2 separate regions of the Homo sapiens genome follow, and region 1 is linked to region 2. Evidence: fine-mapped expression QTL. Tissue or cell type: blood mononuclear cells. Region 2 holds a variant in brackets; the other region holds the start of a gene. All regions are shown on one strand. Distances are between the middles of the regions. Region 1 holds the start of SELENON (selenoprotein N). Region 2 overlaps MAN1C1 (mannosidase alpha class 1C member 1).

What was found.
Region 1: SELENON starts here. The variant in region 2 is fine-mapped to the expression of SELENON in blood mononuclear cells (TOPMed, PIP above 0.99). The same link has a PIP of 0.9 or more in whole blood.

The regions. Positions count from the first base shown.
Region 1 is chr1:25,791,876-25,807,979 of GRCh38, reverse strand. It overlaps SELENON (selenoprotein N), which reads right to left and starts at 7,787. Exons shown (of 12, transcript NM_206926.2): 1 at 7,567-7,787; 2 at 6,820-6,937; 3 at 2,705-2,838. The coding sequence starts at 7,749. RefSeq lists a silencer at 7,923-8,062 and an enhancer at 7,872-8,593.
Region 2 is chr1:25,722,823-25,738,926 of GRCh38, reverse strand. The region is part of intron 2 of MAN1C1 (mannosidase alpha class 1C member 1); the gene reads right to left. Among named protein-coding and RNA genes, the nearest start is that of SELENON, 69 kb to the left of the region's middle. RefSeq lists enhancers at 13,502-14,145, 14,231-14,731 and a silencer at 15,363-15,563. The variant T/G (reference allele first, on the strand shown) is at 8,002.

The DNA.
Region 1 (16,104 bases), 69 kb before region 2:
GGGGAAGGAAGGCCACCCCCAGAAGGGCCCTGCCTTAAGTACAGCCTGCCCCACCCTGGGCAAAAGGCCTTCCCTAAGCCCGAGTCCTCATCGGTGACCTGCCTCGCCTCTGTCTGACAAGCTGATGGCTCGGAGAGGACGCTCAGAGACCACAGAGCTGTCTACACGTCGGCCAGCATTTGGGGAACAGCAGATTCCCTCTTCTGTCGCCACCTCCCTGGCAGCAGGAGCTCAGGCTTGGTGGGAGGTAGGAGGAAAGCAGGCAGGGAGCTCCCACAGAGACAGATTTAACAGGCGGTTCTCAAGGCAGAGCTGGCTGTGCCGGGCCAGGCCGAGCCCGCCTTCCTGGGTCCTGCTTGTAGGCTTGCCACCCCCTGCAGGGGACCTGCCAGCGATGGGTGCTGGGCTTGCTGGGGCTCTGCTCGGGGGCCAGGGCTAGGGGTGCTGCTCCTGCCTCACCCCAGTTCTTGTTGTCTGTGCGGACTTATCTGCTCAGACCAGCCCATCACTGCCAAATCCATGGAGATGGGTTCCCCATCTCCTTTTGTGGAAGGTCAGACCGGTTTTGACCACTTCCTGGACTCCTGCCTATCTGCTGCACTGTCTCCTTGGCTGAGAAGAACACGTTTATTCATTTGTTCATTCCACAAAATGTTTTATGCACCTACTGTATAGGAAGTTTCTATCAGGGTACACTGTGCACCCTGTCTTCTTGGAGCTTATAGTGGGAGACGGCAAGTAAACAGGACCCAAAACGGGCAATGCCCTTCCCTGTGAGCTCCTCCTTGGAATTTCTGTCCCTCCCTGAACCTGCAGCGATGAGGTTAAGAAAGGGGCTCCCGGCCGGGCATGGTGGCTCACACCTGTAATCCCTATAATCCCTGTACGCCTATAATTCGGGAGGCCGAGGCAGGTGGATCACGAGGTCAGGAGATTGAAACCATCCTGGTCAACATGGTGAAACCCCGTCTCTACTAAAAATACAAAGAAATTAGCCGGGTGTGGTGGTGGGCACCTGTAGTCCCAGCTACTCGGGAGGCTGAAGCAGGAGAATAGCTTGAACCCGGGAGGCGGAGCTTGCAGTGAGCAGAGATCGCGCCACTGCACTCCAGCCTGGGCGACAGAGCGAGACTCCGTCCCAAAAAAAAAAAAAAAAAAAAGAAAGGGGCTCCCCAGCACTGCTTCCCTGGGCTGGGCCAGGTGGCAATTCCGCCACAGGTGCCAGCCTCAAGGTCATTCCCAAGTTTCTTTTGCCATGTGGCTGCCAGGCTCTAGAGTTGGGCACTGCCAAGGGGCTGCTGCTGGGCAGCAGACATCCAACATCCCCTGGGGACCTCAACTTCAACATGTGCAGACTGACCTCATTCTCTATCCCCTACTCCCTCCCCGCCTACAGTCCCCATCTGGGCAAGCAGCCCACCATGCCCCTGGTCACAGCCAGAAGCCTGAGTCATCCAACTCCTGCCCACCCACTGTCCATGAGGAGCCGCTCCCTGCCCTTCCTTCCCCAGCATCCTCCAGGCTGCCCTTACTCTCCATCTCCTCCGTCTCCCCTCCAGAACTGGTCTTCTTGCCTCCCACTTCTCCCCATTCTACACATGCCCCGTCCCTGGCCTGGAGAGCCCAGGTCTGATGAGAAAGCTGTCTTATTTAAAATCTGCACGATATTCAGCCACCATAGAATGAAGGCCAAAGGCAGGCAACAAAGCCCTTGGTGGGGTCTGGCACCTTCTCTCCTGGCCCCACTGATTGGGATGCCCCTGTGTGGGTCCTGCATGCCCCCTGGGCCCAGACACACCCACTGCCTGGCCTCAGTGACCAGCCTGGCACTCCTGCCTTCAGGCCTCTGTTCGTGCTGAAGTGGCATTGGCTGAGATGAAAAGGCTGGGTCGGGCTGTGTGGGCTGGGCACAGAGAGGCAGTGTTCCTGGCAGAGGGAACCACATGTGAGAAGGCTCCCAGTTGGAAGAAAGCCTGGGGATTTGGAAGGAAGGAAGTCTGGTGTGGTTGGAACAGAGGAAGCCCACAGAGGGGAGGAGAGAGTGGGAGAGAGTGCAAAAGGGCAGGCAGGGGCTGAGGCAGCTTCATCCTGCAATGCGCTCAGGACCCTGTCCAAAGGGCCTTGGGTTGGGGAGGGGCTGGCAAGGAGAGCATCTGTCCACCTCCTACCTCCACCTTCTCAGGTGCCCTCCCCACCCCACAGCCCTCTGCTGGGGACCAAACCTCAGGTCTAGATCATCAGAGTTCAACAGAGTACCTATCAGGAGCCAGGCATCATGCTATGCCCCGTGGGGAAGAGATGGATGTGTGGGAAGTAATCATCATAGTGTGTGGGAAATAATCATCATAGTATGTGGGGCGGCTGCACTAACAGGGTCTCTACTGCACTGCTGCTTCCTCCGAGACCCCCCCAACCTGTGCTCAGTCACCCTGCTGAGCCCTCCTCATCCTGCAGTCTACCAGATGTCACTTCCTCTAGGAAGCTATCCCAGATTCCCCAGTCTGGGGCAGAAGCTAATGCTTCTCTCTCCTGCTCCCCCAGCAGGCTGTATGCCTGGACAGCAGGGACAACATCACCGCACATGGACCTCCAGGGCCTGGCTCTAGTGGGCACACAGAGGGCAGAGGAAAGATGGATGAATGGAGCAGAAACTCATCTTCGGGATACACACAGATGACCCCACTGCCTGTGGTCCCCAACTCACCCCTAGGAAGCCATCTTTGCTCTTGGTCATGGTCTCCGGGAGCAGAGGCTGGAATCGGGCTTCTATGGTGAGCGTCTCCTCGCTAGGGTCAGGGGGCAACTCCTCCTCCTCGCAGCTGGCCGCGGGAGTTGACCCTATGAGACACAGACATCGGAGAGGCACTGCCCTTATGCTACAGGGCTCACCTCTCCCTCATCATCCACACTAGCTGGTGATTAACGGAGCCAGGCAGGGGGTGGGGGTAGCTGGGGTGTTAACAGTCACCAAAGTAACAACCAGTGTATCGCATTTTAGTTTCAGGATAGCCCAGGGAGGCAGATAATAACATTACCAACTCCATTTGACAAATGAGAAAGTGTTCAGAGAGGTAAAGTCACTTCCCCAGGTCACATAGCTAGATGGTGGGGGAATCGGGATTGAAACCCAGGCCTGTTTACTCGAAACCCATGACCAACCACGACCCTTTTCTAGGTCTTCTGGGACTGAGAGGAACTCAGTCAAGGGAACCGGAGTAATGAATGAAGCAAGAAACAGAAACAGGCTCTTTGGTGTCATAGGGAGAGCACTGGTTTGAGAGTGAGGAGACCCACTTTCCCCTGCTTTTTTTTTTTTTGCGGCGGGGGGGGGGGGGCGGGGGGGGCATTGCCCCAGCTGTAGGAGGGGCTGGACTGGCAGTGTGGCTGGATTTGATTTCTTGGATCTTTTCCTGCTCAGAGATCTGGCAAGTCTATAACCTTCCCAGTATAGAAGGATTCATTTTGAAAGGCTAAGGGACAAATGACGCCTATTTCAAAAGGGGTGAGTAATAGTCACCAGTAACAAAGTGTAGCCAGCGGAGGGCGGGGGTGGGTCTTGCCCTGTCTGCCCTCTCAGGGCAGGGTAGTGGTACAGAGATGATGCCTGGCATTTGCTGACTGACTGGCTAGCAGGCTGAATGATGCATTAAAGCAGTTCTCAACCAGAAGTCCTCAAAATCACCCAGGATGCCTTTAAACTACAGATGCTCACAACCCACCTCAGACCTACTGAATGAGAATCTGCAGGGGTGAGAGTCTGGAATCTGCCCTTTTAATGAGCACTCCCTGCTGCTCCTGATCCAAATCCCTATTCTGAAGAATCACTTATTTCTGTATTTGTAAGTCAATGAGGTAAAACTTTCCAAAACGCAATCTAGAAACCCAAGAAGAAGGGAGCAACAGGAATATGCAGGGTTATTAGTAAGCCTTGCTTATTCAATTATTTTACTGATATCACAGATAAATATTAATAATAATGATTCCCAAGGCAGCTCATGCCTGTAATCCCAGCACTTTGGGAAGCCGAAGCAGGCGGATCACCTGAGGTTAGGAGTTTGAGACCAGCTTGGCCAACATGATGAAACCCCGTCTCTACTAAAAATGCCAAAATTAGCTGGGCATGGTGGTGCACCCCTGTAATCCCAGCCCAGCTACTCTGGAGGCTGAGACAGGAGAATTGCTTGAACCTGGGAGGCAGAGGTTGCAGTGAGCCGAGCACTCCAGCCTGGGTGACAGAGCAAGACTCCATCTCAAAAAAAAAAACAAAAAAACAAAAAAAACAAAAACCAATAATAATGATGATGCCCCCACCACCTAGCTGTATGATCTGGGGAAGGGACTTCACCTCTCTGAGCCTTTGCTTTCTCATTTGTCAAATGGAGTTGGTAATAATGTTATTAATTATAATACTACTACTCAGCATTTTACAGCCCTTTGGCTTTTTAATAAAAAGTTTTATTTCCTGACTTATGAGTAACATTTGCCCATTATAGGTAATTTGTAAAAATTTTAAGGGATAAGGCAGAAAATTAAACACTCTCATAACTCTACCAAATAGAACTAGTTGGCTCTATTTCCTGCTTGGATTTGATTCCCCCTGCCCTTTGATTTCTCAATACTTGGTCCATTTTTGCATTCACAGCCTAGAGGTAATGGGGGAATTCTTTTACCCTGATGGAGAAAAAGATTTCTGTGCAAAAAATTAAAAGTGCACCTCAAGCTTTGCTAACATGTCATTATGAGAGAACTCTCACTCTGGCCACAAAAAAGGACAAAGAGGTAGCTGTGCAAATGCGCAGAAGTGTATGCAAAACAAGAAGTACAGGCAAGGCCACAAGGGGACGACCTGTTTATCTGCCCATCTGCTTTCATGACAGAACTGCCTGCCACTGAGAGACATTGATACACATCCACTCCAGCTCATTAGCATTTTTCATCCAACCTTCCTCCTCTAGCAGTGATCACAGGTCACCGGGCCAGCACGGAACCAACCTACACAATACACCCCTGAAAAACAGCAGGCTAGTGACAGCGCTTTGAAGCTTATGCACCCGAAACAGCCAGCATGTCTCTCTTGCCTTTCCCATCAATGACTGACTTACACCAGGCAATCTGGGTAATAAGTAGGTGTCCAAGATCCTAAGTTCAAGAAACGTCACAAGAAGTTGGAAGAAAATGGGCACAGAGGTTAGGGTGGTGGTGGGGCAGCGAGAGAAGCGTTTTATAATTCATTAGAATGTTTCAGCCCCTCATCTTTAACCAAATAAATAAATAAATAATCACTGACTGCACTAGGCAAAAATGATAGCAAGAATGGAATAGGAGGCCGGGCACAGTGGCTCACGCCTGTAATCCCAGCACTTTGGGAGGCTGAGGCGGGCAGATCTCTTGAGGTCAGGAGTTCGAGACCAGCCTAGCTAACAAGGCAAAACCCCGTCTCTACTAAAAATACAAAATCAGCCCGGCATGGTGGTAGGTGCCTGTAATCCCAGCTCCTGGGAAGGCTGAGGCAGGGGAATTGCTTGAACCAGGGAGGCAGAAGCTGCAGTGAGCTGAGATTATGTCACTGCACTCCAGTCTAGGTGACAGAGGAAGACTCCATCTCAACAACAACAACAACAAAGAATGGAATAGAAATCTGAAAGCACCTAAGCAAAGTTTCAGATTTAGTAATGATAGTTATAGCTCCTGGCTGGGTGCGGTGGTTCACACCTGTAATTCCAGCACTTTGGGAGGCCAAGGTAAGAGGATCGTTTGAGCCCAGGAATTTGAGACCAGCCTAGGCAACGTAGTGAGACTGCATCTCTACAAAAATAGAAAAATCAGCTGGGCGTGGTAGCACATGCCTGTGGTCCCACTTACTCAGGAGGCTGAGGCAGGAGGATCAATTGAGCCAGGGAAGTTGAGGCTGCAGTGAGCTGTGACTGCACCACTGCACTCCAGTCTGGGTGACAGAACAAGACCCTGTCTCAAAAAAAAAAAAAAAGTTATAGCTGCTGTCTATTGGAAATCTACTGCATATTCGTCACTGTGCATTTCTTTTCTCTACTGAAACCTGTGAGCTGGTGCAGGACCCTGAAGCCAGATGGCCCCAGTTCTAGCCCTGGCTCCGCACCTTTCTAGCTTGGGAAACTGGGGAGCCTGCCTGTGCCTTAGTCTCTCAGACTATTAAACATGGGGATCATGACAGTGTCCATCTCCCAGGGCTACTGTGAGGTTTAAAGAGAGAACCCACATGAAATACTTAAATACCTGGCACGGAGGAGGTGGCCAAGGAATGGTTTTTTTGTTTTTTTGGTTTTGCTTTGTTTGTTTGTTTTGAGACAGGGTCTCACTCTGTCGCCCAGGCTGGAGTGCAGTGGTGTGATGTCAACTCACTGCAACCTCTGCCTCATGGCCTCTAGTGATCCTCCCACCTCAGCCTCCCAAGTAGCTGGGACTACAGGTGTGCACCACCACACCCGGCTAATTTTTGTATTTTTGTAGGGATGGGGTTTTGCCATGTTGACCAGGCTGGTCTTGAACTCCTGGGCTCAAGCGATCCTTCCATCTCCCAAAGTGTTGGGATTACAGGCGTGAGCTACCTCGCAGACCAAAGAATGTTAGCTGGTATTATTGCTCACAAGTCTGAGAAAAACAGGCTCAGGGGTTGCTGGAGCAGCTCGCCCAAGCCACCAGCTACAAAGTGTCAGAGCTGGGAGGAGTCCAGGGCCTCTGAGATCCCACGAGCTTCCCTCCACTCCAGACGGCCGCTCCTGCTCAGTGAAGACACCGTTGGCCAAGGCGCCCTCCTCCCCAGCCGCCAGTCTCTCCTGGTACCTGTTAGCTTCTCAGCAATGGGTTTGAACTCCTCAGGGCTGATGTACATATCCCCGTCAGTGTCCAAGGAGGAAAAGAGAAAAAGGCCATCTGTCCCCAGGGTCTTCAGCGCCAGTTCCTGCTTGGGAGGAGAGACTGGGCTGGGCACCATTTGGCGGCCTGGTCTCCTGGTCCCCAACAGGCAGTTGCTTCCGCATGGAGCCCCTTCTCCCACCATCTTCCTGAGCTCTCCCAGTGCCTCCCGGTCCATCTGTGCAAATGTTGCCTCTGAACTGCCCCAGAGCCTCCAGTCCCTCCTGGTCCCTGCTCATCCACTGTCTGGTCCGACTGCCCCCTCCCAGTTTGTCCCCACTCCGCCTTCCGCCTGGCCCTGGCTGCTTGGCCCTGTTCCTCCTGCACCTTCTGTCCTCTCCTGTGTCCCCTCCTCACTGTCCCAGGGCTCCCCAGTAACCCTTTAAGACTCTGCGGGAACCAGCTTCACTGTGTCCAGGTCACCCCTCTGGATAGAGACCCCTCCAGTCTGTCCCAGCCCCACACTGGCCTCCGTTCGCCTTCCCCCCATCAGCCCGGCCCCAGGCACCCCCCACCCGCCTCCCGTGTCCCCTCCTTCCCGTGCTCCCTCCCGTCCAGTCCCCCTCCGCCCTCCGCCTCCCCCGACTCGTCCATGCCCATGTCCCCCCTGCTGCCGAGGCTGGGTCCTTCAGTCCCCGCTCCCGCGCTCCCGCCCCAGCCAGCTCGGGCCCGGACCTGCCGCGCGGCCGCCTGGGCCTCGGCGTGGCGGGCGCAGACCCGGACGGCGGCGGCAGCGGCGGCGGCCAGCAGGGCTCCGAGCAGCGCCAGGGAACGGGCGCGGCGGCGCGGTGGCGCGGGAGGCTGCGCGGCGGGGCCGGGGCTGGGCGGCCCGCGTTGGCCCGGCCGGGCCCGGCCCATGGCTGCGGCTGGCGGCGGCTGCCGGCGGCCCGGGAAGCGAAAGAGCGGGGCGGGGCCGGGGGCGGGGCGGCCGGGGCGGGGAGGGGCGGGGCGGCCGCAGGGGCTGGGCGGGGGGTCGCTGGTTCCCGGCTTCGCAGCCCGGCCAGAGCCCGGGGCGGGGTCAGCTACACCGGAACGCCAAGAGGGGCTGATCGCGTCTATGCGGTCGGGTCCGTAGTCCCGGCCACCCCAGCCTCCCCAGGCCGCTTCCTGCCTCTCCGCGCCCCTTCCCGTGCTTCCGTTCCCAAAGCTAAGCCAGGCCTCTGCGGCCCACTTGCCTGGCCCAGCCCAGAGAGCGATTCCAGACTGGGGACTGGGACAAAGAAGGGGCTGGGGAGAAGCCACACACCCTGTGCTTTCCTGGAGAAGGGGCGTCGGGGGCCTCTGAGGCCTCGTGTCCTCCTCTGCTGGCAGCCGGGCACGAGGCCAGAGACTGCTGAGGGGCATCCGTCCATCCTTATCCCACCAGTTTTCTAAAAGTTCCTCTGTCATCTAGAGCAAGACAAATTAAAAAGAAAGCCCAGCCCCTGTTCCCCTCATGTGCAGTTGGGGGGCCACCTCCGCAGATGCATGGGTTATGGGGATTGGCCTTGTTCCAGGCACAGCAGGTGCAGCTCTGAACCTGCACTTCCCTGGGCCCAAATTTCCTCATCTCCACCAAGGAGTTAAAAGAGCCCCCCAACCCCCACCCTCCGGGCTCTGGTCTGGTGAGGGGAAGGCGAGGCTCCAGCCCCTCAGCAGCTGGAGCTACCAGAGGCCCTGGCTTTTCTGGAGAACAGCATGCGGCATGCTTGGAGGAGGGCCTTGGAAATAGGGGTGGGTGGTGTTGAGGACATATTTTCATGCCTGTCAATCCCCAGGACCTTGGTTCCTTGGGGCTCTCTTCCATTCTTTCAAAGCCCCCAGTTACCATGGGGTGGCTCTAGATGTCTCTACCTGCATTTTCTCAGGCGAGGGTGGCAGCTGCAGAAGCCTCTAGACAAGAATTCTGAGCCCAGAGGTGAGCAGTGCCTGCCTTTGCAGAGCCCCACCAACCCCCCCAGCGCAGGGGCACCTGTCAGGCCTGAGGGATCCAAAGGATGCTGAGCTCTGCCCATGTGCTGGACTTCAGGTGGGGTGATTTACACATTCTCTCACTCTGTTCTCAAGCCACCTTGTGAGGTAGAGACTGCTTCCCTGGTTTTCAAATGAAGAAGCCTGACCTCTGGCACCCAGGTCTATGGGTCCAAATCTCCTGCCATCCTGCCTCCCAGGCTTCCCACGGGATGACCCGGTCGACTGAGTTGGGGGTGGGGTCCTGCCTCCACTGCCCATCCTGTTCTTCTTTGGTGGCCAGCCATGGCAGCACCAGGTGAGGCCTTCCCAGAGCCCACACAGGGCGTGGCACATCGTGGGCACTCCTCAGTGTCTGTCAGATGAATGACTCCCAGGGACCTTCCAGAGTTGTGGGCCCACCCAACCCTTGCCCTGTGCTCTGGCCCCAGTGTCCTTAGAGGGACCCACTGAGAGCCTGACATCTGGCGTTGGCTTCTGAAGGCTTCCAACTGTGCCACTTTCAACTCATTATTGCTACTGTTTGGGGACACCCTGTGTACGATACATGATACTAGAAAACCAAATTCTATTCTATTGGAAGCAAAACTAGTAGAGCACAAAGCAGGTTAGGAGGGGAAGATTGATGAGCTAAGGCTTCTGGAAAATAAACAAAGGAAGTTTTCTTTCCCAGATAACTTTTATTTATTACACTTGCTTTTTCTTAAAGATACAGATACCCCACTGGTCTCTGCTGCCCAGTGCTGAAGAAATGGGTTTCTGGGGCTTGCGGGACTTGGGGGATGATTCTAGAAGCTCGGGAAGGCGCACAGTGGGGGTGGGTTAATGACAATCAGGTCAGATCAGTGTGCCTCTGTGAAAAGGATCAATCTTGGGCCCAGCTCTGGGAGATGTCAGCTCTGGGAGGTGTCAGCTCTGGGACTGGCAGTGGAGCAGGGCTGGTTTCCCACTGGAGGGCGCCCTTCCCAGAAGGGCTTGTCCCAAACCAAGATCCCCGGCAGGGCAAGGCCGTGAGAGATAGGGCCTAGTGGGTGGTTCTGGCTGGGGCAGCCCTGCAGGATCTCTTTGGCACCTTGCTATTGCCTCCCAGTGGGCAAGGGTGACACTTGGGAACTGGCAGCCAATGGGAACCACAGCAAGGTGAGTGACGCACTGGCCACGTCCATGAGGGTCTCGGAGGTTAGTGGGCACTCGCTCATTCATCCTTCCAACACATGTATTGAAGGGCTACTATGCCGTGTCCTGGCGATTGGGTGTCCATCAGAAAACAAAACAGTCTCTGCTCTTCCAGATGAGTCAATGGATACTGCAACCCTCCTCTCGAGGGGTAAGTGCTCTGAGAGGGGTGTGCACAGAGGAGGGTCCCCCTGACTATCAGGAGGGCTCAGAAGAGGCTTCCCAGAGCAGAGGTCTGGCCAGACCTTGACTTCAGGAGCTCACCAGGCATAGCACCCAGGAAGATCATTCCAGAGGGTGGGAACAGCAGAGGTGAAGGCCCAGTGATGTGAAACTCGATGGAGTATCCGTAGCGTCTCGAGAATATAGTCCAGTGGATTTGAGCAGAGGGACCCGGGGGGGAAGTGTGAAGAGGGAGGAGGAGGAGGCAGGAAGGTTGGGCTGGCACGCTGGCCAGCTTGTGAAAAGCCTGGACTTTACCACTGAGACAATGTGGAGGCATCAGAAGAGAGGGACATTCAGCCACTGCAGCACCCTTCAGACTCCCTACTGGGTCCCAGCTTCTGCCTGGGGGCACCCACACCCACCTCCCTGCGCAGAGGGTGTTGGTGTAAGCACTCCAGGCCACTCCATCCACCCATGAGAAGAGGAGGGAGCCTGACCTGCCTGCAGCCACATTTAAGTAGGGGCAGGGTCACTGCCTCGAATCCTGGTGTCTCTCTCTCTCTCCTACACACACACACACCCCTGATGTGTGTGTGTCTCTCTCTCTTTCTCTCTCCTACACACACACACACACGCGCGCACACACACGCGCGCACACACACACGCACACGCGCGCGCGCGCACACACACACACACACACATCCCTGCCTGCCTCCTAGTAGCATCCTCTCTTCTGCTTCCTGTCTCTTTGGGGTAAACTCACCAGGAAAGGCCTTCTTCCCGCAGGGGGCGCTGCTGCCCTCCAGGGAATCAAATCAAATTAGGATTTTCCATTCCAGTTTCACCGGCGACAGTGAGCCAGGAAGAGGGCCATTTGGCTTTGTTTTTTGTGTTTCTTCTCTTCATCTGGGACCCTAGAGAGGCAAGTGATTTTCCCCAAACCCAACCCTAACATCTTGGCAGCCAATAATAGGACCAACATTTGAGAACAAAGGATCACTTGGGGGAAACAGGTGCCACTGCAGGAGTTGCTTAAGCATGCCCGGACCACGTGGGCCTCTCCGCAAACTAAATACCTGCTGTGTGCCAGGGACTGTTCTCAGCCCTGGGAACACAGTATTATAGAAGACGGGCAAGGCACTTCCTCTGTGGGGGCTGAATATTCTACTCGGAGGAAGGAAATGACAGACACACAAGGTAATTTCAGAGAAAGGTAAGTGTGAAGGAGTGAGACAGGGCACTGTGGCACAGTGCCACAGGCAGGCATCAGCACCGTAGCTGGGAGGTGACACATACACTGCGCCTGGAACGGGAAGAAGCAGCCAGCTATGAGAAGAATCGAGGAAGGAGCGTCCCAGGCACGGAGAAGAGGGGAGAGCCGGTGCAAAGGCCTGGGGTGGAAACAAGCTTGGTATGTCCAGGAGACACACAGAAGGCAGAGTGAGTTATGGGAAGAGAAAAGCTTGGTGACAGAGGCTGGGACAGGACGTCGGAATCTTGCAGGCCTCGGCAACAAACTTCATTCAATTTATTTATTGAGACAGGGTCTCACTCTGTCCCCCAGGCTGCAGTGCAGTGGCACGATCTCAGTTCACTGCAACGTTGAACTCCTGGGCTCAAAGCATCCTTCCACCCCAGACTATCAAGTAGCTGGGACCACAGGTGTGAGTCACGGCACTTGGTCAAACTTCATTCTAGATATGATGTGAAACCATTATAAGGTGTTAAGCAGGGTGGTGACAATGTGTGACTTGGTTTTTTGTTAGTTTGTTTGTTTTTGAGATGGAATCTTGCTCTTGTCGCTCAGGCTGGAGTGTAGTGGCGCGATCTAGGCTCACTGAAACCTCCGCCTCCCGGATTCAAGCAATTCTCCTGCCTCAGCCTCCAGAGTAGCTGGGATTACAGGTGCCGGCCACCGAGCCTGGCTACTTTTTGTATTTTTAGTAGAGACAGGGTTTCACCATATTGGCCAAGCTGGGCTCAAACTCCTGACCTCAAGTGATCCGCCTACCTCGGCCTCCCAAAGTGCTGGGATTACAGGAGTGAGCCACCGCACTCGGCTGGTGACTTGTTTTTTAAAAGACCTTTCTCATAGCCCAGATGCAGAAACAACCCAAATTTCCAGCAATGAATGGATAAACAATGCGGTGTATCCATTTGATAAGTATTAGTGGGCAATAATAAACCTTAGCAACTTTAAGCTGGGTGGAAAAAGCCAAACACAAAGACCACGGCTTGTGTGATTCATTCAGTGAAATGTCCAGAATCCACAGATCCAGAGAGACAGAAACTAAATTAGCAGTTGCCTGGGGCTATAGTGGGAGACCGGGAGGAGGGGGCTGGGGAGTAACTGCTAATGGGTACAAAGTTTCTTCTGGGGTGATAAAATGTTCTAAAATTAGATTATAATGATGCTTGCACAATTCTGTGATATACTAAAAAAACATGAATTGTCCATCTTTGAAGTGGGTGGATTTTATGGCATGTAAATGATATCCCAGTAAAGCCTCTTGGTTTTGATGTTTGTTTAAAGATCTTTCTGGTTTCTGGGTAGAGAATAGAGTTAGGGGATGGACAGAGGAAGGAGGGAGACAGGAGGCTAATGCAGTCGCCCAGACATAAGATGGCAGGGATTGGGCAGGCGTGGACAAGATATATGAGTGTAGCAGAGCCACAGACAGGATTTGCGGATGGGTCAGAAGTGGACGGCAAGAGGAAAGACCAGCATCAGCCATGGGTTGAGCTTGGGTAGCTGGTGGCACCATCCTGAGATGAGGCACCCTGGAGGGACCCCGGCTGGGGAGAAGGCTTGGTCCAGTCTGCCAGGTTAAGATGCCTGAGAGCTGGCTGGGCGTGGTGGCTCACGCCTATAATCCCAGCACTTTGGGATGCTGGGGTGGGCGGATCATGAGGTCAGGAGGTCGAGACCATCCTGGCCAACATGGTGAAACCCCATCTTTACTAAAAATACAAAAAATTAGCTGGGCGTGGTGGCGCACGCCTGTAGTCCCAGCTACTCGGGAGGCTGAGGCAGGAGAATCGCTTGAACCTGGAAGGCTGAGGTTGCAGTGAGCCAAGATCACACCACTGCACTCCAGCCTGGTGATAGAGGGAGACTCCAGCTCAAAAAAAAAAAAAAAGATGCCTGAGAGTCACCCTCACGGAGGTGTCAAGGAGGCAGTTGTGTGTGTATGACTATGGGGCTATGAACGGTAGGGAAGGGGGGCGTGGATTATAAATCTGGGAGTTGCCAGTCTAAAAATGGCACTTAAAGCCACAAGATTCAATGAGATCATTGAAGAGAGAGAAGAGAAGCCGCCTTTGGCCTATGTGGCCACAGATGCCGCCGTGTCTTGGAATGTTGAGTGGCTTTGGCTGGATTTACAGGCATGGAGCTGTGGCTGTGATTAGCCAAAAAATAGATTAACGTTAGAGGTCATGACAGGCTTGGCTTGGCTCTCGTACTGTCCAGGCTGGGAGAGAGATTTGTTTCCCGGGGTCAGTAAATGCCCCCGGGACTTTGCCAGATGGACAGATTTAGTCTCAGCATCACGAGTGCAGAGGTCCTGGTTACCCAGCCTGGCTGCCCACTAGTCACCTGGGGCCTTTGAAGGAGACCAATGCTTGGGGCCAACCCCCAGTTGGTTGGGGGAAAGAGGGACATTTTTACCAGCTCTCCAGTGATTTTGAGGGAGAAAATGTAAAGACGGCCAAGTTCCACACACAAGCCACAAAAAAGAGTTTGACATTCGGGGCCTTTCCAACGGTGAGTGTCAGGCACAGGCAGATGGTACCGGATGATCTGGCCTGAATTCTGTTCCACTTGTCTTGTGTGTTTTGAACTGGGTCCAGGGCCAAGGAGGGAACCGTGCTGGGGGGTCAGCCACCCTGGTCTGCTCAGGACTGACACTGATGGAGCACCGAGGATGTGGGATATTCGGTCCTACAAGCAAGAAAGCCCTAACTGGGATGAGCTAGTCACCCAAACAAGGGAGAGGCATAGCTCAGCTTGCATCTGAGAGGCTTTATTTCATCATCTCTGATCTTGGTTGTGCACTTCAGAGGTTTTTTTTTTTTTTACCACAAATGGGTACAAGAGGGCTTCATAATGACCAGACAAGAAAGTGTGAGCATCCTTATTAGACAGGAGCTAAGTGGTTATAAGTTGTATCATATAAATTAAGACAGAAAATGCAGAGGATTTTTTTTTTTTTTTGAGACAAGGTCTCACTGTCACCCTGGCTGGAGTACAGTGGTGCAACTTCAGCTCACTGCAATCTCTGCCTCCCAGGCTCAACTGATCCTCTTACCTCTGCCTCCTGGGCTCAAGAGAGCCTCCCACCTCAGCCTCCCGAGTAGCTGGGATTACAGGCGCCTGCCACCACACCCGGCTAATTTTTGTATGTTTAGTAGAGATGGGGTTTCACCATGTTGGCCAGGCTGGTCTCTAACTCCTGACCTCAGGTGATCCGCCCACCTCGGCCTCCGAAAGTGCTGGGATTATGGTTGTGAGCCACTATACCCAGCCTATTTTATTTTGAGATGGGGTCTCACTCTGTTGCCCTGGCTGCAGTGCTATGGCATGATCATAGCTCACTGCAGCCTTGAACTCCTGGCCTCAAGCCAGCCTCCCGCCTTGACCTCCCAAAGTGCTGGGATTACAGGTGTGAGCCACTATACCCAGCCTCAGTGGAATGTTTATAATGCAAAAAACCATGAAAAGAATGAAATGTCTGTGCCTGAAATTAGGTGATGGTGAAAGAGGTCCACATAGGGTTTGCTCTGGGGATGGCAGGTATTGACTAGAAGCAGCACATGCAAGCCTTCTGGGTGCTGGAATAGTCTTGATCTTGACTGGGGAGGTGGTCATATGAGCGTGCATATAGGTCAACATTCCTTGAGCTGGTCATTTAAGAATAGTGCGTTTTAGGCTGGGTGCAATGGCTCACGCCTGTAATCCCGACACTTTGGGAGGCTGAGGCGGGTGGATCACCTGAGGTCAGGAGTTCAAGAACAACCTGGCTAACATGGTGAAACCCCGTTTCTACCAAAAATACAAAAATTAGCCGGGTGTGGTCCTGTAGTCCCAGCTACTCGGGAGGCTGAAGCATGAGAATCGCTTAAACCTGGGAGGCGGAATTTGCAGTGAGCTGAGATTGCGCCATTGCACGCCAGCCTGGGCGACAGAGTGACATCGTGTCTCAAAAAAAAAAAAAAAAAAAAAAGAATAGTGCATTTTACACATTACTGTATCTACATTATATCTCAAAAAAAATTTTTTTTTAAAGTTTCACTTAAAAACTCAAGGAGAAATAGGACTGGTTTAAAACACTAGAGCCACGGAAAATTAAAGCACAACAAAGGCTTAACACCGGAGCCATGGAAAACAGTAGTATTTTATTTTATTATTTTATTTTATATTTTATTTTATTTGAGACAGGGTCTCACTCTGTTGCCCAGGCTGGGCTTGCTAGGGCACAGTCATAGCTCACTGCAGCCTTGGACTCCTGGCCTCAAGTGAACTGCCTTGAAACACCGGTTTGAAACACTGGAGCTTTGGAAAATTACAGCATGATGAAGGCAGACATGCTGACTGGGCTGGAGGAAAGGAGTGATTTCTCAGGAGACAGCTGGGACACGTGGACACAGATGAAAGGGAAGAGGAGGCAGATAGTTCCTGACTGCTCCAAAGATAGGCTAAGGGGATCGGGAGATATTAGGGATCCAAATGGCTCCATGACCCCTGGGAGGACCTTGAGAGCTATAGTTGGTGGCACCAGTCAAGGCTGTGGGGTGGTCCCTTGGTGATCAGGTGAGCTGTGGACAGGGAAGGTGTCCAGACCACATGGTGATCATAGGTGGGGAACCGTGTGGAGTCAGGACCCTTCAGGAAGCACACGGAGAATGACACAGCAGAAGGTG
Region 2 (16,104 bases):
GTCTCCCAAAGCACTGGGATTACAGGTGTGAGCCACTGTGCCTGGCTTGACCTTAAGGCCCAGACCTTAAGAAACTGGCAGCTTCCACTTCCTGCCTCTCAGAATGTTGGATCTTGGAACCAGCCACCATACTGTAAGGAAGCCCAAGATAGCTAGCTCTCAAGGAGAAAACATGTAGAGAGCCATGTATCAGTTTTCTGACTGACAGTCCCATCTGAGGTTCTAGCCAACAGCCAGCATCAATTGCAACGCATGACTCAAAAAGCTTCCAGATAATACTACCACCCAGCTGTCGAGTCAGCCTCAGCCTTCAAGCCTTCCCAGCTGAGGGTCTATACATGACTGCACAGAGACAAGCTGTCCCCTGTTGTGCCCTTTCTGAATTACTGACCCACTCAATCTGTGAGCATAATAAAATAATTGTTTTAAGCCCCCAAGTTTTGGAGTAATTTGCAATGTAGCAATAGCAACTGGAATGTTTTTGCCACATGGGTTTTTTAGGAAGATGAATTAAAGTGACATCCCCATTACCCAAAGTTTATTGTTTAAAACCAGATCGTCTAATATGATGAGGTCTTCTGGCGGCATAAAACCCATTTACGGACTGGGACCTCTCCATTTCTATCTGGTCTGTTTCTCGTGTGTCGTGTTTTAATTTTTTTTCCTTGAGCAGGAATATTTTCCTTGAATTTTCCCATGATAGCTATTTCCTGGGTGACATAGCACTGTGCTCTGAGGCTGAATATTTCCAGGCAAAGGTTTCTTGAAGCCTCTGGAAGGAAAGATATTTTTTAGGGATTCTTCCTGGAACCCAATAGAATGCTCTTACTGGAGGCTGATACATGAAAGATGAGCATAATGATCACATCACCGCCCTGTTTAACAGCCCTCAACCTCACCCCTGCCTCAGTTCTCCAAGTTCAAACTCCTGGACACAGCGTGCAGAACCCATGGTCCCAGCCGTGGCAAGTTCTCCAGCCTCACCTCTTGTCCTGCTCTCTTTGCAAAGTGATGCTTGACCCACATCAGACCACCAGCAGCTCCTCAGACTCCCTGGCGTGCCTGCTGATATGGGTCCCTCTGCCTGGGATGCCTTCCTTTGCAGAGATGGCTCGGTAAACACCTACTCATCTTTCTGGCCTTGGCTCATACATTCAGCCTTTTCCCAAGACGTTCCTGAGCCACCAAGCAGAACTGACCATGCCCATTGATGCCCACCAACTCTGCTGCATGTGACTTTGTCCCAGCACTGTGTACACGATATTGTATGTCTCTGCATAGGTGCCTGTGAATCCCAGGGTGCAGTGGCTGGGTCTAACATTTCCCAGTGGCCCCAGCATCCATCCTCAGGCTGGGCACAGAGAAGGCAGAAACGAGTGGTTGTTGAATGAATGAATGAATGGCGATTGGAAATGCCAACAGCTCTTTCTTGGGGCTCTCCAACACTTTACCAGGCCCCTGGGACTCGGAGAAGACACAGCACACACAGTAGTGGCCAGCTACCAAGGAAATCCCTGTCGGGGGGGCGAAATGGGCAGCCACAGACGTCAGGGCCCTGGTGGAACTAATGGCTTCCTCCACCCTTCCTGAGCAGATGCCACGCTTTGCTGCCACAGCTGGCTGGAGAATGATTACTGCAGCCAATGGCTGGAGAAGGTTCCCTGTGACAAGTGGCTGGACACAGTTCACTGAAGCAGTCTGCTGGACACAGCTCCTCATTGGAAAACAGGGTGTGTTTGTAAAATGTTAATGTTTGTTTTTAAATAAGAGCTGAGGGTGCTGTCTGATCTGGAAACCTGTGTTTAAAAACTCCCTCTGACCGTGCTGTAGAGCAAGCTCTGAACTGCTTTCATCTCAAAACTGAAGCCCAGAATTCTGGAGTGATATCTCCAAAGTCACAAAACTCAGGGCAGAGCTGTGACCAGAAGCCACCTTCCAGAGCACGTGAACTTTATGTTTCCTGCGAGGCCTGGATAGGGAAGACAGCGTGGGCTTTGAAGCCAAACAGACCCGGTTCTGATCTCAGCCTCATCCATCCTTGCTGTGTGAGCTTGGGCAACTGACTTGACCTCTTGCACCCTCAGTGAAATGGGATAATGAGCCGGGGTGCAGTGGCTCAGGCATGTAATTACAACACTTTGGGAGGCTTAGGTAGGTGGATCGCTTGAGCCCGGGAGTTCAAGACCAGCTTAGGCGACATGGCAAAACCCTGTCTCTACAAAAAATGCAAAAATTTGCCAGACATAGGGGCATGTGCCTGTGGCCCCAGCTACTTGGGAGGCTGAGGTGGGAAGATTGCTTGAGCCCAGGAGGTAGAGGCTGCAGTGAGCTGTGATGGCGCCACTGCACTCCAGCCTGGGCGACAGAGCAAGACCCTGCTGCAAAAACAAAAATTAAACAAAGTAAAATGGGACAATGAGGTCTCCCTTTTAGGGTGGTATGGTGATGAGTTTGGAAGAATACATATAAAGAACCCCCATACACTGTCCAGCACTCAGCAGGCACTCACTACAGGAGAATATGACACACCCAGCATACCAGTAGGTACTCAATGCATGGGGCTGTTATCACAAGGTTCAGTTCCAGCAGAGAAAGTCACCCTCAGGCTTGGCAAAGCTAAGAGCCCTGGCAGATGATTGGCCCAGCAGAGAAGGTACTACCTTTGTGCCAGGCAAGCAGAAAGTGTGAGCCATGGGGAAGTCAGGACAGAGCTGGGCAGGGACTGGGGCATTTTAACTACCCAATAGGACTGCAGTACTCTCTTTGCCTCAATGGGGAGAAGGGCAAAAATCAGAGCCCTTTGCCGCTCATCCCACCAGACATCAAAGTCCAGCTACTGCTCTGGTCAGCTCCTAACAGCAGACACAGAGACCCTTCACACTCTGGCCTCTACTTGCCTGGGGAAATTAGATGGTTGTTCAACAAATCTTCACTCCTTCCCTCTCCCTCCTTGGGAGGAGTAAATATCCCTATCCCATTAACCTTGTGCTTTTCCATGTAACTTGCTTTGGCTTCATAGTGGGTGGGGAATTAAACTCTGCCCTTGATCTTACGTTTGGCCATGAGACTTGCCACAGGGATTAGAGGACATGATCTGAAACATGCTTGCATGGCTGGGCTTGCTCCGTTAGGCTCCCACCCTTCACCATGAGAAGAATGAACCTCAAATGGCCACTGGTCCAGGAAGGATGAGATATGTGCAGAGCAGACTTGGATCTAGCTAGATGCAGCCTAGATAAACCAAATTCCAGCCTATCTGCAGTCACAAACAACACTGTGGTCTGCCTCTCACTGTGGAATACTTTGTTATAATACAACCCTATTATGGAAATAGATGACTGATACAATGTTCTTACAGTCCTATGTCATATATATACATATATACATACACATATACATACACATATATATACACACACATACATACACACATATACACACATATATACATACACATATATAGATACACACATATATATATACATACACATACATACATACACATTTTGAGACACAGTCTCGCTCTGTCACACAGGATGGAGTGCAGTGGTGTGATCTCTGCTCACTGCAATCTCCACCTCCTGGGTTCAAGTGATTCTCATTGCCTCAGCCTCCCAAGTAGCTGGGATTACAGGCATGCGTCAGCATGCCCGGCTAATTTTTGTGTTTTTGGCAGAGGTGGGGATTCGCCATGTTGGCCAGGCTTGTCTCAAACTCCTGGCCTCAAGTGATCCACCTGTCTCGGTCTCCCACGAGACAGGCCTGGGATAACAGGCGTGAGCCACCGCGACTGGCCGCCTATGTCTTAATCGTCTTTTCATGTGTTCCACATTCTAGGCAAACTACTGCTTCCATGTGGCCCACTCTCTCCAGCCTCCAGCCCTTTCTTCAAGCTGTTTTCTCTACCTGGCATGCCCTCTTCTAACACACAATGTCCCCACACGTCTCAATCCAATGTCTACTTTAACTTCTAGATAAAATGTTTCTTCCTCCGTGAAGACATCCCTGACTCTCCCACGTGGATCTGAGGTTTTTCTCCTCTGAACGTTTATATCAAAGGCATTGTTTCTCAACTTCTATTACAGTAATTTGTGTCCTTTTCTCAAGTCCATTCCAGGCAGGGAGTGTCTTCATGGCTAGATCTAAGCCTGGTTGATTTAAGCCTACACAGACCCTGCAGGGTCAAGGTGCCTTTGGGATCTGCGGAGTGAAGGATTGGACACCCTCCCTGCACTGCCTCTATGTGAGGAGGCCACCTAGACAGCCAGTGCCCTGGCCAGAGGCAATTCCTCTGTGGTGTGAGGTGCTGGGAGCCAGACACTGACTCCATGAGGCTCTGAGATCCTAGCCCAGGGTGGACACCCCCACAAAAGCTTCTTGTGGAATGTGGAATTCTAAATGCCAGCCAACCCTTCCTTATCAGAAGTTAAGAACAATCCTTTTTTGCCTGGCACTGTGCTGTTTGTTTCACATCCATCTTTTAAAAACTCTATCATTGGGCCAGGTGCAGTGGCTCATGCCAGTAATCCCAGTACTTTGAAAGGCTGAGGTGGGTGGATCATTTGAGGCCAGGAGTTCGAGACCAGCCTGGCCAACATGGTGAAACCCCATCTCTACTAAAAATACAAAAGTCAGCTGGGCATGGTGGTGCACACCTGTAGTCCTAGCTACTTAGGAGGGTGTGGCATGAGAATCGCTTGAACCCATGAGGTGGAGGTTGCAGTGAGCCGTGATTGCGCTACTGCACTCCAGCCTGGGTGACAGAGAGAGACTCTGTCTCAAAAATAAATAAATTAAAATAAATTAAAAATCAAAAAAATAAAAGCTCGGCTGGGCGCAGTGGCTCACGCCTGTAATCCCAGCACCTTGGGAGGCCGAGGTGGGCGGATCACGAGGTCAGGAGATCAAGACCATCCTGGCTAACACGGTGAAACCCCATCTCTACTAAAAATATAAAAAATTAGCCGGGCGTGGTGGCGGGCGCCTGTAGTCCCAGCTACTCAGGAGGCAGAGGCAGGAGAATGGCGTGAGCACGGGAGGCGGAGCTTGCAGCAAGCCAAGATCACACCACTGCACTCCAGCCTGGGCGACAGAGAAAGACTCCGTCTCAAAAAAAAATAAAAATAAAAATAATAAATAAATAAATAAACAAAATAAAAACTCATTGTCCCCCTCTTACAGACGAAGATTGAGGCTTAGAGGAATTAAGTCACTTGTTCAAGATTCATTCATTCATTCATCCCAAATGTATTTTTTGGGTACTCGGGGTGTGCCTGGCACTGGAGCCTAGTGGAATGAGGGGAAAGACACACAGAGACACATCTAAATGTAACGTGTGTGATGCAGAAAAACAGAGTGGCTAAGGAGGAGCTCCATTTAGGTGTGGCGGGGGAGCACAGCCAGGAGATGGGCAGCGTTCGGGCAGAGGCTTGAAGGAGGCCCAGGAGAAAGGGGCCAAGGGCACGGCGGGCAGAATGCACAGCACATTGAAAATCCCAAGATAAAGGTTGTGTGCAGCGGGAAAGGGGGAAAGTAGTGGGCAGTGAGGGGGTGGAGGCCAGATCACACATGGCCCTGGGGCTTCAAGAAAGGGGGTCTGGATGGCTTAGGAACTGGATCTGACTGGCTGCTGTATGATGAGTGGCTGGGCCCAACGGGACTCCAGAGCTACCCATCTTGGTTTGGTGAATTGTCCTCTAGGCACTTACGGATGAGGAGGACGGGGGCAGGAGCACCTGGGTCTGTGCTTTGAGACCCTGTGAAGGCAGCTGGAGATGCTCCCCAGCTGTGGGGGTAGCTGTTTACCAGTCCAGGAACAAGAATTCAACAAGACCACAGGGCATGTGAGCCAGGTGCCTCACCTCAGCTCCTGGGGGAGCCTCCAGCTGTCTTTGACAGTGCCAGAGCCTCCCAGGCCCACGGACACAGGGTTGCAGTGCTGTCTTGGGTATACATTGTGGCCACACAGAGCTATGCATTGATCATGGCAAACACGGCCTGTGGACCACAGCCAAGAGGTGCAGATGCATGGCTCTGATAACAAGATTAATGATGATTATTGGAAAGGAGAAAAGAAAGGAAATCAAAGAGGTCCCATTCACCCCTGTAAAACATTAAGAGATAGCAGAGGCAGTGCCAGGAGAGCCTGGTAGGGAGCTGAGCCCCAGGGAGGGTCTTTGTAGTTGCTGGGATAGCTTAGCTGCAGGCAGTGGGCCAGCAGAATGGGTTGAGTCCTGGAAACCCACGCTTGGATCCACCACTTACTAGCTGCCTCAGTTTCCTCATCCTCCACAGTGGGAGCAAGACCTCCACCTTGCAAACCATCCTGAGGGCTAGAGATCATGCAAAATGCCGGACGCCGCAGACGCAAACCTGCGTGAAGGCCGACACCATGTTGCTGAGCGCACCACAGACAGCACCTCTTTTAAGTCTCACAACACCTGAGGAGGAGGGTGCAATTCCTGCCCCTGTTTTACAGATGGGGAAACTGAGGCTTAGAGAATCATCTAAACCTCCCAGGGCTGATGAACAGGGAGCCAGGACTCAACTCTGGCCATCTTCCCTGGTTGCTCTGCCCTTCACTGCTGTGCCATTCCATTCCTGCACAACTTGGGAGACTGGGCCTGGTTTGGAGGGTCCAAGAAGGTCCCAGGGAAGTACTCTTGGCTTTGAGACCACAGGCTACCTCCTGAAGGCCTGTGGCTTAGCCTGACCCTATCTCCCACCTCTGGGCTGGAGCAAGGCCCCCCTGCAGCAGGCACTACCTTGCAGAGAGCTGCCGCCTCTCCCTAGGAGCCTGGGCACCCTCTGCAGGAGCCCCCCCAGATGCCCTCGAGGGATGGCTCTTCTTACCTACACCATTCTGGGCCCCACCACTGATCCCCTGGCCCAGGCTCACTCATAGGAGGGTCTGAGTTGGTCTTTTTCTCTGACAGATGGTAGCCCTGGAAGGAAGAGATCCTGCCAGATGCATCTTTGGAGCCACCAAAGAGCCTAGTGTGATGCCAGGTGCATGGTAGGTTTGGAGTAAATATATAGTAAATTAACCCTGACATAGAACAGAGCAGGAGCCGAGAGCACACATGACCACAGGCCAGACAGGTGGCCTTCTCTCCATCAGGCCATGACGAATCCATCTGGTTTACTCCCAGCATCAGTAAAGAGGAGACCAGCCCACACTCCTATAGACCAAGGGCCTCCCTTTTCTTTGGTCCACAGGCCCCTTCCAGAACCTCACAGAAGCCACTCAGGCTTCCCCTTGCCAGACTTACCTGTGTTAGAGAGGGAGGAAGGAGCCTGAGACAGATTCCTACAAAGGACAGAGTAGGGCAGAAACTTTGGAATCAGGTAGACTTAGAATAAAATCATAATTGTCCTATTACTAGCTGTGTGACTTCTGGTCAGCTACCTTATCTCATGAGCCTCAACATCCTCCTCTGTGAAATGCAGATAATGTAGACGACTGAAGCCACTGATGCTAGTGGATACACAATGAGGTTTGTTTTCCTTAAATGTAAATGGACTACAGAGGATACCTATGAGTTGCCTCTCATTTGATGATGATGATGATGATGATGATGATGATGATGACGATGATGATGATTATTGTTATTTTTTGAGTCAGGGTCTCACTCTGTTGTCCAAGCTGCAGTGCAGTGGCACGATCACAGCTCACTGCAGCCTTGACTTCCCTGGGCTCACGTGATCCTCCCACCTCAGCCTCCTGAGTAGCTGGACTACATGAGCATGCCACCACGCCTGGCTAATTTTTTTGTACAGACGGGGTTTCGCCATGTTGCCCAGGCTGGTCTCAAACTCCTGGGCTCAGGCGGTCTGTCCACCTCGACCTCCCAAAGTGCTGGGATTACAGGCATGAGCCACCAGGCCTGGCCTCATTTGATTTTTTTAAAGCAGCAGCGATTGTGGGGGAAGCACAGGCTTGTGGTCAAACCATGTGCCTTGGCTCTGTGGCTTACCAGCCTGTGACCACAGCCAAATGAC[T/G]TAACCTCTCTGAGCCAGCAGCGAGTCTGCATCTGTCCAAGGTACTAGCAATAACCCTGTCGCAGATGTGGGTGGCCTGAATCAGGTGAAGGGTGCAGGACTCCATGAACAGAGTCTGGCAGGAGAGTGAAAAGGAGGAGGAAGTGCCCACACAGGGAGAACCCCCTCCCCGCTTGCCCTGTCCACCCACCCACAGCCAAGCCAGGCCTCATCCAGTCGTGACAGCCCTGAGCATGCTTCTGGGGCAAGAACTGCCTCTGTTTCAGACCTCAGTGCCCAAACAATTCACAAATGCAGCAAACGTGCCACGGCCCAGGAGACAGCTCTCCGCTTCAGAGAAAACACACAGTTCAATTTCCTAAAGATCGAAGCCCAGGAGCATTTCAAGGCTTTCCTGGCGAGAGCAGTTCTCAGAACTCAGGAGGCACCACCCTCATGTGACTGAACAATTAAAGCCCCTAGTATTTGTCATTCTCAGCTAAGGTTTTCGAGGATGGCTGAGAAAACTAAAAAAAAAAAAAAATCTGATTTTGGCAGTGTGGCTTTCAGAAATATATGGTAATCCATTTTTGTCAATTCACAGAAGGCACAGCTCAAATCATTAAAAAGCCATCGTGCTTAATCATGCGTGGAGAAGGCCAGTCTCTGCCTCTGAGATCATTTTAAAACGGTTTCAGGGTAACTGTCAAAAACTGACAGGGAAGCAGGGAGGGGATTATGACAGACCATAATCTGAGGAATTTCTCTTTCTGGTTCTCAAAGGGTAAGGGATTTATCTGAGAGGAAATCACCACCCAGACCTTGGCCTTGGTGCTGGTGGGGACAGTGGTGAGGAAGATTCTAGGATGCATCAGGCCTGACCTCTGTCCTTACGGAGGCTGCAGCTGCTTTCTCAGAAAGACAGTAAGCAATTTCCCAGCAAAACAGCAAGTAAATGAATGATTATGAAGCCTTGTGACAGGTGCTAAGAATAGGTGGAAGTTTATGCAGCTGTTAAGGCCTGGCTGTGAGCCACGGGGACCTGGGTTTGGAATTTGACTTTGCCACTCTGCAGCTGTGTGACCTCACACACACTCCTCACAGACCTGGGTTCCTCATCTAGAAAATGGGATGCCTGGCCAGGCACGGGGGCTCATGCCTGTAATCCCAACACTTTGGGAGACCGAGGTGGGCAGATCATGAGGTCAAGAGATGGAGACTATCCTGGCCAACATGGTGACACCCTGTCTCTATTAAAAATATAAAAATTAGCTGGGCGTGGTGGTGGGCGCCTGTAGTCCCAGCTACTCGGGAGGCTGAGGCAGGAGAATTGCTTGAACCCTGGAGGCAGAGGTTGCAGTGAGCCGAGATCATGCCATTGCACTCCAGCCTGGGTGACAGAACTAGATCACATCATTGCACTCCAGCCTGGGCAACAGAGCGAGACACCATCTCAAAAAAAAAAAAAAGAAGAAAAAGAAAATGGGACGCCTGCCTTGTAGGCTTGGGAGCTCAATGAGTTAATTCCTGGGAAGCTTTTATTGCAGTGCCTGGTACACAGTAAGCTCTCAATAAATGCTGGCCGAGTGGCTAACTCTGCTCAGGAAGCCTCATGGACCTGTGATGGATCGGGAAGGATGAGCAGGAACCCGCAGGGTGGAGAGCAACAGGGGGGACATTCCAGGCAGAGAGCACAGCATGTGCAAAGGCCCTGAGGTAGGAAGCTGGTCAGGGAGGAGCATAGGTTTCGGGGGAGGGAATAAGGGGAGCAATGTGGCCAGTCAGCTGGAGCCATCCTGGGAAAGACTTCAAATGCAGGCCAAGGGGTTTGGTCTCTATGTTGAGGGCCATGAGGAGCCACAGAGGGGTGTCTCAGGGCTGGGCCATGAGCAAACCATGTACATTAGAAGCTAACGAAGGGGCAAGAGGCTGCCGAGAAGGCTGGAACAGCATTTGGAGATCCAGAATCCTTCTGGGGTCAGAGCCACACAGCGAGTCTTCTTCCAGGTCTCAGACCACACTGGGCACTTGTTGACGCCTAGGTGACCAAACTCTCACTAGGGGTCCCCAGCCTTTATTTGAGGGTAATATCCTCTACTGTGCCAGCAACGATTCTGCACCAGTTCCCCTTCCTTAGACAGAGCCGTTGAAGGGAAATAGCCGCCCAGGCAGGCACTGCGTTTCCCAGCCTTTCTGCATCTAGGTGGAGCCGCAGGACCCAATGGGGTGTGGGCATAGGCTCCATACACCACTTTGAGGCCTGGCCCATAAAAACCATTCATGGATATTCCAAGGCCGAGGCAATCTTGGGTGTTACAACCTGAAGATGATGGCGCCTCCATCACCCTGAGTGCCTGAGTCATCAGAGGGAACAGAGCTCTCCCCACCATCAATATGACTTTACATGAGCAAGAAAGAAATGTCTGTTGTCTCCAAGCACTGAAGTCTCTGGGTTTATCTGTCACAGCAGCCAGCATTACCCTAAACAGACCCACCAGGCAGAATGACCTTGAGCACTTCACCTCCCTGAGCCTGTTTCTCTCAAACAGATTGTTGTGAGTGCCTAATACGATGACAAGTGTGAGTGCTTTGCAAGCAGCGAGGAACCACAGAGATCCGTCTGTCATGGGGTTACTGGCTTTGGTCCCTCTGAGAACCCGAGGTTGCAGAGGGGAGGGGACTCCGGCCAGTCCCTGCTGAGGCAGGGGAGTGCAGCAGCTAAGGCCCGGAGAAGCTCGCAGCAGGGGCTCAAGATCCACCAGCAGGTCCTGGCCTAGGCTGGGGACTCTCACTCCAGGCTTTAGTTCAGCCCTTTGAGAGATGCTCCTCAAATAGCTGAGCCGCCCAAAGGGAGGAGGCTGGGGCCTGGCTTCCATCTCCTGGAAGCTGCCCCGGGAAGCAGTCCTCCCAGCCTCTCTCTGATAACTTGTTCCAACCTCTCACAACTCATTAACAGGAAACTGCATTCCCTGCCAGGAAGACGCACGCCTGATTTTTCAGACATGGCAGGTAGACTGTGTTATCAAAGCCTTGTCATGTGTCTGCACGGCCCCCACGCTCTCCTGCTCTCTGGTGTCCTCGGCCAGGCTCTGTGCTCAGAGCATGCATTGCCTTTGGATGTGGCTGGGCAATCTGCCAGCTTGTCTGGCCAGGGCCAGGGGCCCAGGATGGATTCCCGTGAGGGTGGCTGAGGCTCAGCCTGTACCCCGCTCCTAAGCATCCCACACTCCCTGCCCAGAACTGGGGCTGAGACCCCACAGGGGGACAGGGTGGGGAAGGCCTGAGCAACACAGGATGTGAAGAGCTGTCTCTGGCCTCAGTGACTTTCACACAGAATACCATGGGCACTCCGTGTCCTTTTGCTGCAGGGTTCCTCTGCCATAGCTTTGGGATGGGGGTAGAGAATGCTCACCCCCAGCCTCTGGAGCCTGGAGTCGGGGGCAAGGCCATTTTGTCCTGCACGTATCCCCCACTGTCCCGTTCTCGGGCAGGGTGGGTGCAGACACCAACCTCCTCCACCTCCCATGCTGTCTCATTCCTTCACACAGTCGCTCACCGCCTCTCACTGGGGACCCGTGAGGAGTTCTCAAATCACCTGGCAGAGGAAATACCACCAGTGCCCTGGACTACGACAAGGACATGAAGTATCCATTTCCAAAGTCTATCCACAGGCAGGACTTAGTCTGTTTGTTCCTTATCCCCACCCTGAGCAGTGTTGTTAAACCCGGTTCACAGAGGAGGAATTTAAATGACTAGTGCCTAAGGTCATCCAGCTAGTCCACTGGGTAGTAATCTGAGCTGGGTCTAGCAGCCTCCATGATCATCATGGTTATGTGTCTAATACAGCCTTCATGCCAAAACCTAAACCAAGAATTTTACTTTTTTTTTTGGAAACAGGGTCTTGCTCTGTCAACCAAGCTGGAATGCAGTGGCGCACTTTCAGCTCACTGCAACCTCCACTTCCCAGGTTCAAGCCATCCTCACACCTCAACCTCCTGAATAGCTAGGAGTACAGACACATGCCACCGCAGTTGGCTTTTTTTTTTTTTTTTTAATAGAGATGAGGTCTCACTGTATTGCCCAGGTTGGTCTCACACTCCTGAACTTAAGTGATCCTCCCACCTTGGCCTCCCGCAGTGATGGGATTACAGACGTGAGCCATCATGCCTGGCTGAGAATTTTATACTCTTAATCTTCATAATTATACTGCAGTGTAGGTGGTTATATTATCTCCATTTCCAGATGACAAAACTGAGGCTCAGAAAGCTAAGAAGCTTGTCCAAAGCTGCACAGCAAATAAGCAGGAACCATGGCCCGAATGCCTACTGTACTTGTGCTCTCTCCCCACACCAGCGGCCTCACAGGTGAGATGGGGCCCACCTGGGGAAGGCAGATGATGAGGCTTCAAGATCCTACCAAGCAAAAAAGCAGGGTATAAAATGCACACATGCTGGTCACCACACCCCATTACGAAGTGTGTGTACATGGATGACATTGGATGGGATCTGGTAGTCAGTGGCTGTGTGTCTCAGAGGGAGGCAGGGCCTGGCAGCTTCTATTAGTGCCTGGTCACTCTTGGCTGAATTCTTCCTTGTAAGGATGGCTAAGGGTTAAGGTAAATAGGAACGAGTTGGGCAGAGGTTTGGTGGGTCTACCTTGCCGTGGCCCTGGAGACCGTGGTCGTGGTGGTCCTCCCTCCCTTTCCCTTTCCCCAGGTGCAGGAGCCACCTGGTCAGATAACCTCTCCACCTCACTGCATTCCAGACAAGCTCTGCCTTAGGCAGAGATCCAAGCAAACCAGAGACCACTGCTCTGAGCACTGACCTCTTTTGAAGAAGTGAAGACTTGCAGGAGAGGGGCTACAGTCGGAGCAGTGTTAAGAGAGTCCCCCATCATAGAGGCCAAGGCCAAGGAGCTGGTCTGCAATGGCCTGTAAATGGCCCTTTGTGATCCAGCCCATGCCCAGCTGGGCAGCTCACTCAGATGAAAGCCTCACCTTTCATTTCATGCCACAGCCACACTCAGCTCAGCATGCCGTACCGCTGAGCCTCAGCCCAGGATGGACCTTCTGCCCCGAGCACCCTCTCATTCTTCAGCTCTACCATGTGCATCTGTTGTTCTCAGGTGCCTTGAACCCAGCCCCCGGCTTTCAGATGGCGCAGTCTCCCTCAAATGCCACACGCCTTCGACTTCCATTAAAACAAACACTGGGAGAGAATCCTTAATAATGCCATCTAGAGGGCAAAGTGGGAGGCGAGGCAGGATCCCCAGGCACTGAAAAGTTGAGGTGGGATGGCCCAAGGACACTTTATTCTAGGAGGAGCTAGGATAACCCAAGAAGCCCTCAGCAGGCTTGCTCTAGTGGACCCCTAACAAGTACTCCTGTACTCTCACGCCACCATGCCCTTGCACGTGCTGTGCCCTTTACCTAGAATGCCCTCCTCACCTGGGAGACTCCAGCTTATTCTTCAAAGCCCAGCTCAACGTAACCTGCTCTGTGAAGTTCCCAGAGGCAGAATCAGTGGCTCCTTCCTCTGTATTCCCGTAGCACTTTGACCACATAATTACGTGTGAATCCCTCCTCTAAGAAGAGAACTCTTTCGAGGCAAGGGACGTGGCCAGTGCACCTTTGCATCTCTAGCATCCATCCCAGAGCTGGCCTAGAAAAGCCTCTGAATGAATGAATTAATGAGCTTCCTTTTGCTAAGATCCCAAGATACCTATTTTCCCACCTCCTGCTGGGCCTTCCCTCTCCAGTCACAAGAGGAGCAAACTGAGCCTTTTGTCTTCACACCACATTGGTATTGACCAGAGCTGGGTTTTAATGGTGCTTTGACAAAAGGCAGCTCCCACATTCATTTTCCTTGGCTAATTACATTTCCCAATTGAAATGCTTATCTCTGGGTTGGTGTTATAGACATAATCAGTTTCCAGAATGGATTCAAAAGAGGTGAGAGCAAGAAAATAATTAAGCCAACTTCTGATTGAATCAAATAATTAAGCAAATTTCATCGGTTGCCTGTGATCTACAGCTCCAGCCTGGGCCTGGAGAGTGTACTACTCTATCAGAGAGATCATGTCTGATTGTTTTAGAGATGGGCAGCATTTCTTCCAGTAGCAAGTAAAGGATTAGCTCTTTTAACTGAATGCAAATCAGGGTGGCAGAACCCCAGGTTCCTTGTTTAGGCAAAATATTCTGTGTTTGCAGGAAAATAATCGAGGCTGGGGTGTGCTCTGTTCCGGAGCCATGCCTAGACACTCATGGTAGAGTTTGCACCAATGGTCCCAATTCCTTACCCCTTCCTGCATTCATGTCCTTTGCACTGAGTAGGATGCCTCTCCCCACTCTCTTCCTCTGGGCTCAGACACGTGTGGCTAACTTCAGCCAATGAGAGCAAATGTGACACACGCAGAGGCTTGAAAAAGCACTTGCATGTTTCTGCTTGCTTTCTTGTCCTTTTGCCACCTCCATGGGAATACATATGAACTAGAGCTGAGATGCAGAGATGCGTGGAACAGAGCTCAGTTGGCCCAGTTGTCCAAGCCAAGGATCTCTTAGATCATCCGACAGTCAGCTGCCCCCAGGCACAAGGGTGAGCCCAGTCAAGATCTGCAGTCATAGGCTAGGCGTGATGGCTCATGCCTGTAATCCCAGGACTTTGGGAGGCCAGGTGGGCGGATCACAAGATCAGGAGATCGAGAACATCTTGGCCAACAAGGTGAAACCCCATCTCTATTAAAAATACAAAAATTAGCCGGGCGTGGTGGCGTGCACCTGTAGTCTCAGCTACTCTGGAGGCTGAGGCAGGAGAATCGCTTGAACCCGGGAGGCGGAGGTTGCAGCGAGCCGAGATTGTGCCACTGCACTCCAGCCTGGGCAACAAGAGCAAAACTCTGTTTCAAAAAAAAAAAAAAAAAAAGGTAGGCAGTCGTTTGGCCTGCCCAGCCTGGATCAGGTGAACTCTGAAGACTCCTGAGTTACCTAAACACTTATTGCTGCATGCCAGTGAGGTCTGTGGTTGTTTGTAACTGATACAGTATCCCGCAGCCCAGGCTGGCCTTTTCTCCAGTCCCAGCCTCTAGAGGGTACCCCTCAATCCTTTAGTCCAAGCACCACTTAGAACAGACAGTCATACATCCCGCTGTTTGAATGGTAAATCTTTATGCAAAAACCCATCTAATCTTCACAAAGTCTCCTGGGCAGACATCAGGAAAGGGATCTTTTGTCCCACTCTACAGATGATGATGTTGAGGCTCAGGGAACCCAACAGAAGAGCCAGAGATCGTGGTTAAAGATTGTGAGTTCAATGAATGCACTAGCCCTATTTCCACCCAGAAACTCCACTAAGACAACGGTATAATTTTTTAAATAATGCATCAATCCACAAAGATAGAACAACCAGGGAAGAAGATGATAGTAACAAAGTTTGGCAGCTGGGAAAGAGATGTGGAGTGCTGACTCAGCAAAGCCAAGAAAGCCGAACCCTAAGCCATGATGATGCAAGCAAACAGGCACTCAGGTTTGTGCTAGAAAACCCCAAAGGCTCTGGGATTGGTGGCAACACCAGGTATCTCTGGAAGTGAAATAAGAGGAGGGCTTGTTGCAAGTCAGCCTAAAGGCAGTAAGATCCCTAGATTCTCTTCCTACTTCTGCCAAGAAAATGTTTCCTCTCATCCCAGCAGAAAACCAGAGGCAGAGTCTCAGAAAGGAGTACGACAGAGGGCCTCTTGATGCCTGGCTGAGGCACAGGGTGCCATCCTGGGAGCAGAGGCGGTAAGTGAAGATTTTTGGATTGCCCACCTTTGCCCTCTTGCCCACATGGATCTCAGAAGGTCCATTAATTTCCCGGCACAGTGAATGAAAAGAGACCTACACTGAGGTATATTGTCATGAAATACTACACTGAGGTATATATGTCATGAAACATTGAGGACAAAGAGTACGCCCTACAAGCTTCCACAGAAAAGACAGGTCACAATCAGAAGGCTGTGATCAGGAGTCCATTTGCTAGGTAGGAGAATGAAAACATTTTCTATGCAGAACCAGACTAGCTCTAGAGAACAAACACCTATATTGAGTTCCCATTGGATTATCCTACTGGGATTATCAGTCAGCAGAGCCCA